Regions from separate parts of the Homo sapiens genome. Here regions 2 and 3 are each reported to be linked to region 1. Evidence: microRNA targets listed by miRTarBase, many of them from high-throughput screens and not tested one by one. Region 1 holds a microRNA gene; each other region holds the end of a gene's coding sequence.
The links. The annotated mature microRNA hsa-miR-5692a reads CAAAUAAUACCACAGUGGGUGU and lies in region 1 at 2,096-2,117, shown strand. An mRNA with a match to its seed (bases 2 to 7 or 8) in the 3' UTR can be bound and repressed. Matches are read on the target gene's strand: a 7mer-m8 pairs with bases 2 to 8, a 7mer-A1 pairs with bases 2 to 7 and ends in A, and an 8mer does both.

Region 1 (3,232 bases):
CATAATATCCTAAGGGGATGTTCCTCCTGTTGTCACAGGGGCTGCGCTTTCTGTGCTATGATTTGTAGTATCCCAGGGGATGTTACTCCTACCATACAAATTGGGTACACTTTGTTATATTATTCGTAATATCCTAGAGTGATGTTACCCTTCATATCACGGGGGTGTTCCTCCTGTGATGTTATTCTTCACATTCTAGGAAGATGTGAACCCCTAATATCACAGAGCGTGTACAATCTGTGAAGTTATTCATAATAGTTTTGGGGGATGTTACTCCTAATGTCACACTTGGTGTATAAACCGTGATATGATTTGTCAAGCTTTTTTGGATATGTTAGTCCTAATCTCACAGGGGCTGTACACCCCGTGATATTATTCATAATATCTTAAAGAAATATTACCACTAATATCACAGGTGGTGTACACCCTGTGGTATTATTCCCGATGTTGTAGGGTGATGTTACTCCTAATGTTACAGATGGTATTCACATTCTGATAATACTCGTCATACCCTAAAGGGATGTTACTACTGATGTCACAATGCACGTACACAATCTGATATTATTTCTTATATCCTCGGGCAATGTTGCTTCTAATGTCACATGGGGTGTACACTTTTTGATTTTATTCGTCATATTTTAGAAAGATGTTACTCCTAATGTCACAGAGGGTGTACGCCCTGTGAAGTTATTCATAATAATTTTGGAGGCTGGGACTCCTAATGTCACCCGTGGTGTACAAACAGTGATATTATTCGTAATATTTTATGGAAATGTTACTCCAAATGTCGCAGGGGCCTTACACCTTGTAATATTATTCATCATAACCTAATGAAATGTTACCTCTAATGTCACAGGGGGTGTACACCGTATGATATGGTGCCCAATATTGTAGGGGGATGTTACTCCTAATATTACAGGGGGCGTTCACACTGTGATAATATTCGTAATATCCTAAATGGATGTTAATGCTAGTGACACGACGCGTGTACATCCTCTGTATTTGTTCGTTATATCCTCGGGGGAGGTTTCTCCTACTGTCACATGGGGTGTACTCTCTGTGATATTATTCAGAATATCCTAGGTGGATGTTACTCCTCGTGTCACAGGGGCTGTGCATTCATTTTGTGATGTTATTCACAATGTCCTAGAAGGATGTTACTCCTCAGGTCACAGGGGATGTACACCCTGTGATATTATTCATACTATCCTAGGGGATGTTACTCCAAATGTCACAGAAGGTGTACACTCTGTGATATTACTTGCAATGTGCCAGGGAAATGTACTCCTAATGTCACAGGGCATGTGCACCATGTGTGCACAGCCCCTGTGATGTTATTTGTAATATTCTTGAGGGATGTTAATCCTAATATTCCATATGCTGTTAACCATGTGTGAACACCTTTGTGGTATTATTCCTAACATACTAGAAAGATGTAACTCCTAACATCACGTGGGGTATAGGCCATGTGCGTACACCTTCTGTGATATTATTCATAACATCGTAGGGAGATGCTACTCCTAATTTTACAAGGTGCGTACATTATGTGTGTACACCCCCTCTGATGGTATTCGTAATATTCTAGGGGAATGTTGCTGCTAATGTCACAGGGAGAGTACACCATGTGTATGCAACCCTGGTAATATTATTTCTAATATCTTGGGGGGGTGTTGCTCCTAATGTCACCTGGAGTGTACAGCATGTGTGTACACCTTCTGTGATATTCATAAATCACAGAAAAAGATTACGCCTAATGTAACAGGATGTGTACACCGTGTGCATCAACCGCCTTTGATATTATTCGTAATATACTAGGGGGCTGTGACTTTGAATGTCACAAAGAGTGTACAAAATGTCACAGGGTGTGTATGCCTCATGATATGATTCCTGATATCCAGAAGGATGTTACTCCTAAGGTCACGGGGGTGCACACACTTCGATAATATTTGTAGTCTTATAGGGAGATTTTACTGTAAATCTCACAGTGGGTGTACACTATGTACACTATGTGTAGACTGTGATATTATTTGTAATATCTCAGATACTACAGAGTTATAGCTCTCCGTGTTATATTAGAATTATATCTAAGACAGTACAAATAATACCACAGTGGGTGTACCTCATGTGTGTACACCCTGTGATATTATTTGTAATATCCATGGTAAACATTACATCTAATATCACAGAGAGTGTTCTCCCTTTGATATTTCTCATACTCTCATAGGGAGATATTGCTTTTAATGTCGCAGTGGGTGTACACCATGCGTGTACATTCTGTGATACACCTTATATCCTAGGGAGATATCTCTCCGAATATCAGTGTGTGTACGCCTTGTGATATTCTTCATATCCTAGAAGGATGTTACTCCTAATAAGACAGAGGGCGTACACCCAGTGATGTTCTTTGTAATATCCTAGGGAGATGTTACTCCTAATGTCACACGGGGTGTACACCCATGATATTATTCCTAATATTCTAGGGGGATGTTACTTTTAAAGTCACAGGGGGCGTACACCCTGTGAGGTTGTTCGTAATATCCTAAGAAGATGTTGCTCTTAATGTCACATGGGGTGTACACCCTGTGATATTACTCGGAATATCTTATGGGGATGCTACTCCTAACGTCACAGGCTGTGTACACCCTGTGATGCTATTCGGAATAGCCACAGAGATGTTACTTTTGATGTCACAGACAGGGTCCACCCTTTGATTTTTTTATCATCTTAGGGAGATATGACTTCAAATATCACAGTGGGTGTACACCCACTGTGATGTTATTCGGAATACCCTAGGGAGATATAACTTTTAATATCACCGTGGGCGTACATACTATTTGTGTACACCTACTGTGATATTATTCCTAATATCCTAAAAATAAATAGGACTCCTAATATCACAGTTGGTGTACACACTGTGATATGAGTCGTAATATTCCAACAGGATGTTACTCCTCAGGTCACAGGTGGTTAATACCCTGGGACAGTATTCCTCATATTCCAGGGCGCTGATACTCCTAAAGTCACAGGGTGTGTACCCCCTGTGATATTATTCCTCCTATTCAAGGGGGATGTTACTCCTAATGTCACAGGGATGTACACCCTGTGATATTATTCATAGTATACCAGAGGGATATTAGTACGAATGTCACAATGCGTGTACATCTTGGCATATCATTCGTATTATCCTAATGTCACAGGGGGTGTGTTCCCTGTGACATTATTCCTAATATCC
Region 2 (3,000 bases), not on the chromosome of region 1:
GCAGTGCCCATGGTGAAGGTCTGATTTCACAGACAGAACACCATGGCCAGGGTCCTCTGTGAAGGTGATGCCATCATTCCTCTTTCTTGCCTGCCACTGAGGATTGTCAGGCTCTGACCCCTCCTACAATGACTACCCACCTCTTCGAAATCATTTTCCAACTATGACTCATTTTGTTTACATTAATTGATTTGGTCATCTCTTAGAATTAGTTTTGGATCCTGAAGACATACTAAAAATATGAAGCAGGGTAATAAATACCTTACAATTATCTGGCAAGCCGTTTAAAAGAGCAGGGATGATGGGAAAAGGAGAACGAAAAATCGGTTTACTGTAAGGTATGGTGAAGACTGAATTACACATAGTTCTCCTGAAAATGAGAAGCTATGTTTTCCAACATCTGAATAAATGTACAAGTCCAAATATCAGGAAACAGAATTTCCAGTGCAAATTTTATATACAGCATTATTACCAAAAGCATATAGCAGACATTCCATAAAATAACATTTTCCAAATTAATTATGCATACATATACATCTGCTAATTGAATGACACTGGTAGATACATCTTCATTAAGATGTGAGTTTTATGCTTGTTACTGCATATTTTCAATTATGAATTAAGGGCAAGAATCACCGTCTTCCTGTGAATACATTCCCATAATTTAAGAATTCCACTAAGCTACATTCTGTCTACCAGTTTGTAAGCAAATGTCTCTACAGACCTTTCAAGTATTTATAGTTGGTGCACAGTAACTCGACACTTATTTTGTATAATGTTGCTCAACCGAATGTGGGATACTATAATTATAGCATAATTATTCATAGTTACAGTAAAACTCTAAACCATTTTATTTAGAATATTTCAGCAGTGAACAGAACCTACATGAAAGTGTGCCAAAATAATTTGTGATTGTTTACTGAAATTTATGAGACTTGTAATAGGCTCTGTCTGAACACATATGAAAAATGTAGATAGTGATAGTTTCTGTATATGGGCTGGCTTACAGCTTCCCTACATTCATATTTATCTATGAGTTCTGAAAAATTGGTAATAGAGTATGATTTTTTCAATTGCAGTAAAATATACATAATGTAAAATTTATCATTTTAACTATTTTTAAATATACAGTTGCAGTGGCATTAAGTACACTCACACTGTTGTGCAACCATCCTCCCCATCCACCTCCAGAACTTTCTCATCACCCCAATCAGAAACTTTGTATCCATTATGCACTAACTACCCATTCTCCATCCCCACAGGGTGGCTTATTTCACTTCGCATAATGTACTCAAGGTTCATCCATGTCACCGCATATGTCAGAATTTCCTTCCTGCGGAAGGCTGGTACTATTCCACTGCATGCACGGAACACAATTCCTGCATCCATTCATGGGTGAATGGGATGACACTTGGGCTGCTTCTACCTTTTGGCTACTGTAAATAATGGTGTTATAAACGCTGGTGTACAAATATCTGTTCAAGTCCCTGCTTTCAATTCTTTTGGATCTATAGCCAGAGGTGGAATCGCTGAATCATAGGGTAATTCTATGTTGAATTTTGTGACGAACCTCCATAGCGTTTTCCAACAGCAGCTGAACCATTTTACGTTCCCACAAGCAATGCACAAACTTCCAATTTATCCACCTCTAAATAGCTGATTTTTAAGAAGAAAAATTTGAATTAAAATCTTGTAATATGATTTCTGGACTTGTTTCTTTTCATCTCTCTTCTCTTTGTCACTTGCTTTTATCACAAACCATAGAATTTATGATGCAAGACTTAGTTTGATTAGAAACCCTAATTCCAAGAGGTCTGCTGAGGAAGAGAGACAGAGAAAGTTAAAAGTCATAAAAGTTCATTGAGAGTGTATGTTGCTACAATAAAGAACAACTGGGGGGAGGGGAGTACTGTCATATGACATGGGATCAGAGGGCAGCTTCCTCCCTGAAATCTTAACGTCATGCTACATTCCTCAGCGTGCAAAGGCAAATTCAACTCAGAAGCTGAGAAGACAAAAACAAGCTTTGATAATAGTCAACTAAAGGAAAGTACATACAAAATGAAGAAGGAAAAATGAGTTTTGTCCTTCAGATAGAGGCTGAGGAAAATGTAGATAATGTGCACCAACAGTTTCTGTGGCCGCTTCATGGAGAGGTAATCAAACATTTAGGATTATTTTTCCTGACATATTCTTCAGTCTGCTGTATAAACTGAATGATGATAATTTGGTTTACATATCATATGCATTTGTTTAGATGAAATAAAGAAATATTTACAGGATTGGAAATTAAGTAAAACATTCAATGGGCTAGAATTAGAATCATTATTTTAAAATTAGAAATAAAAAACTTCTTTAATTAACATAAAAATATGTTATGCCTGTTATGACACTTCACAAGATACTCATGTAGACACTAAAGCTCTAGTGCTCCTTGATTTGTTTATAAAATTGTTTTTAAAAAGAATATTCCACATATATATTTATCAGTTTCATATGAAAATATACTCTCCATAAAGCATAACAATAGTTCGTATTTTATAAAATACAGTAATATAAATTTGATGAAACACATGGATTTTTTTAATAAAATCCAAATTTCTTAATAAGGACAGATTAAAATAATTTAGTTAAATTTCACCAGAATTAGTTCAAAACAGAATTTCAGAATTACTCTCTGAAAATGAAGGAATATCATATGACCATCTTTCAGAGTTATTTCAAAATTATTCATATAAGATTTTGATTAGTTTAGCTACTACATGCACGTTGAGACTATTTCCAAGTAGGCGATAACGCTGTTTCACTGTTATCTTCTCAGGAAATCCTAAAAAGACAAAGAACAATTTAAAGAAATCATTTGTAATCACAATTTCCAGAGATGAAAGGATGTATCCTTTAGTAAGGGCACAGCGGTCATTTCATAAGTAAATCACTAAGGTCTCCATGAAGTTTTATTAACAAAAGAGAATTTGGAGCCAAAAATATTCTATAACATTA
Region 3 (3,000 bases), not on the chromosome of region 1:
AGTGAGGACTATGGCTGCATGTCCTCTGCTTGCCCGGCTGCAGAGCAGAGATGTGCAGCCCTCTGGTCAGCTGGTCCAGGCTGGTCCCCGCCGGTCCCCTTCCAGTCCAGCCACCAAGAGTCCACTTGTCCCGGGCTTCCACCTGGCTGACAGGAAGAATTTCTGAGAGCTGGATGTGCATGCCCTGTGGACGAAGGTACAGCTCGCCTGCCTGCCCCAATCCCAGCCCCGACAATCACATGCAGCTGACTCGGACACTGGCCTTGGGAACAATGTTCGAGAGAACACTTGCCCCTTGACTGTAGGAGCCAGAAGGGGACCCAGGTGTGCATAGCTCTCTGTAGACATTTTTACCCAAACCTGTTGGTAAAGTGCCCATCTGGTGCTCAAGAGAGCCTGGGGGTCTAACAGGGAGCCCGGCTGCCTCACCTGGCCACAGCCTCCACACCAGATCTCCACATTGTCTTGATCCAGACCAGCTCTGTGATCAGAAGGAAATTGGGTCCAGTGTAGGAGAGAGCTGGTCCTGGGCCTGGCAGGCAAGAGTGTGGGCATCCTTTCCTGGCCTTTCTCCACTCTCCCTCAAGCCTGTGCTCAGGTTGCCTTGAATGTGGACTCTGGAAGAGCCAGGGGCCCAGAATGCCGGGGGAGGCTTCTGAGTGGCACTCATGGAACACCGTCCCTCTGCCAGCCATAGGCCCTGCCTCCAGTGTCAGGGAATGGAGGCTGGGCTGCGAGAGTGTTGCTGCCCCCTGTGTCATTCTTCTAATCCAATGTAGAAATTGTACGTAATGTATTTAAATCAACGCAAATGTATGAATAACAAATACAGTTCTGACCTTTTTTGTCCAGTTTCTTTGGGGGAAGGAAGACAAAGAAGGTAGGAACGGAATTTTGAGGGCAAAGAAACCTGTGTTTCCATGGAATTGCTGAGACGTGGCTCCTGGGGCTATTTCTCCCTAATAAAGGATGATCCAGGTCCTCATTTCCAAAGTCCCAATGCTCTGAAAACCAAAAGTATTTTCATAACCCATTTGAAACCAAACCTGACCTGAACTTACACTGATAGGAAGCTATGGGTAATTATGATGTGTTCCTTTTAGTGTGATTCTTTGTTGCAGAAATGTCAATATATTTTATGACATGGTTCCCTACTAGGGATTATACAGTATTTGCTGACTACTTCCTAAGAGCCAAAAATAAAAAATCTGAATTCCAAAATAATCTAGTGCCAAGGGCTTGGGATAAGAAATGTGGACCTACAGGCTGGGTGCAGTGACTCACACCAGTAATCCCAGCACTTTGGGAGGCTGAGGTGGGTGAATTGCTTGAGGTCAGGAGTTTGAGACCAGCCTGGCCAACATGGCGAAACCTCGTCTCTACTAAAAATACAAAAATTAGCTGGGTGTGGTGGCACACGCCTGTAATCCCAGCTACTTGGGAGGCTGAGGCAGGAGAATCACTTGAACCCGGGAGTTGGAGGTTGCACTGAGCCGAGATTGCACCACTGCATTCCAGCCTGGAGTAAGACTTTGTCTCTCAGTAAATAAAAATAAATAAATAAATAAATAAACAATAAAATAAAAAAGAGGACCTACCTGACTCAAGGTAGTAGTGGTTCCTCCTCTTGGCCACCAGAGGGCAGCCCTGCCCTGTGTACATCACTGCCCCACTTCAAACCCTGAATAATCAAGCATATAGGGTGGGTGGAGAGGGAGAAGAAAGCTAATAAGCACAGAGTATGCCTCTCTTGAGGTGGAGCCAGAACTGTGGGAAAAACCCTGCCTTCAAGGGTTTCCAGGCCATGGGAAGCCTAGGATATAACGCAGGCAACTTCAGAATCATCAGTCCACCTTGGGATGGTCAGCCCATAAGGATGAAGAAACCAAATGAGGATCTGGCACCACTAGTTTGACTACAGATTAAGCCAGCCCAAGGCCTCAGCCTACTGTGCTGGGCTGACCATGACAGTCTTCCCCCTTCTCCTGATCCTATGGATCAGGACTGCTGCAGAGACTCCCCTCTTTACTCCCGATCCAACAGACTCTGGAAAAGGAGGCTGTGGTCCAGGGGCTCAGCATGGGGGTGAAAAAGGAGAGGGAGGTGAAAAGGAGAGAGGAGGCCAGCCCTGATTTTTCCTTCCTGGGGACACTCTTGCCCCTCCCACTCTGTTTCATTTCCTCCCCTTCTGTGACAGACTCACACAGCTCTTGATGCAAATGTTTTTATTTGCCACTTAAACTACAGTTTCCCTGTGCTATCCTGATGGTGTGGGGGTGTGGAACAGGCTGCTGGAACCATGGTTTACAGTAGTAGCAGGTAGATGATTAGTAGCATGAGTGGTGAAATGCTGCATCTAAGTGCCTGTCACTTTGCTCCCAGGGGAATATCATGCAGCCCAGGAATAGTGTTAGACTGGGAAGGACTGTGGCAGGAACAGTCACTGTCTCTCCTCATTTTGGTGAGGAATGGGTCCCACATAATGGAGAGCTCAACAGAAGCATCCAGTCTTGTTCTGAATGGAGCAGGTCAGTGGCAGCAGCCTCTTGCTTTCATTTACCCCTTTGGGCTGCTTGCCTAAAGTCTCTCTTCCTTCACCTCCCCAGGCCTTTTGGCAAGAGGGAAGACACTGCCATTCCTGGCTCTTTCCCTGGATCAGTGTCTGATCTGGTGGAGGTAGCTTGTGGGGCCTGACTTCCTCCAGTTCCGGCGGATCCTGGCACTTTTCTTCCTAGAGTGCAGATACTGCTCACTGGAGGCTGTCTCTGTGGCACTCTGTGGGTTGGCCAGTGCAGAGTGGGGCTCCAGGATTCTGCAGAGAACAAGTGTATGATTAGCCAACATCAATAGGAAGAATGGAATGGGGACTTCAAGAGATTTCGTCATGGTGGACCATAAAACATATGATTTGGAGCAAAATGAGAGCGGGGCTCTGCTCTGGTCTTTCCCCCTCTGAGAACTGTCTGACTAGACAAAGTTTACAGATTTCTCTGCAGTAGA

Region 2: miRTarBase lists TRDMT1 as a target of hsa-miR-5692a. Seed matches in the 3' UTR shown: 7mer-m8 at 2,620-2,626, 8mer at 1,440-1,447 and 7mer-m8 at 900-906.
Region 3: the mRNA of AVPI1 is a reported target of hsa-miR-5692a. The part of its 3' UTR that is shown has no 7-base or 8-base seed match.

Annotation. Positions count from the first base shown.
Region 1 is chr7:97,961,570-97,964,801 of GRCh38, forward strand. It overlaps MIR5692A1 (microRNA 5692a-1), which reads left to right and starts at 2,089; the gene lies at 2,089-2,157. The region is part of intron 1 of CZ1P-ASNS (CZ1P-ASNS readthrough); the gene reads right to left. MIR5692C2 (microRNA 5692c-2) reads right to left here and starts at 2,912; the gene lies at 2,836-2,912.
Region 2 is chr10:17,146,314-17,149,313 of GRCh38, forward strand. It overlaps TRDMT1 (tRNA aspartic acid methyltransferase 1), which reads right to left. Exons shown (of 11, transcript NM_004412.7): 11 at 1-2,827. The coding sequence ends at 2,727. Among named protein-coding and RNA genes, the nearest start is that of CUBN, 18 kb to the left of the region's middle.
Region 3 is chr10:97,675,214-97,678,213 of GRCh38, forward strand. AVPI1 (arginine vasopressin induced 1) reads right to left here. Exons shown (of 3, transcript NM_021732.3): 3 at 2,211-2,812. The coding sequence ends at 2,656. PI4K2A (phosphatidylinositol 4-kinase type 2 alpha) reads left to right here. Exons shown (of 9, transcript NM_018425.4): 9 at 1-1,221. Among named protein-coding and RNA genes, the nearest start is that of AVPI1, 11 kb to the right of the region's middle. RefSeq lists enhancers at 565-1,064, 1,882-1,951.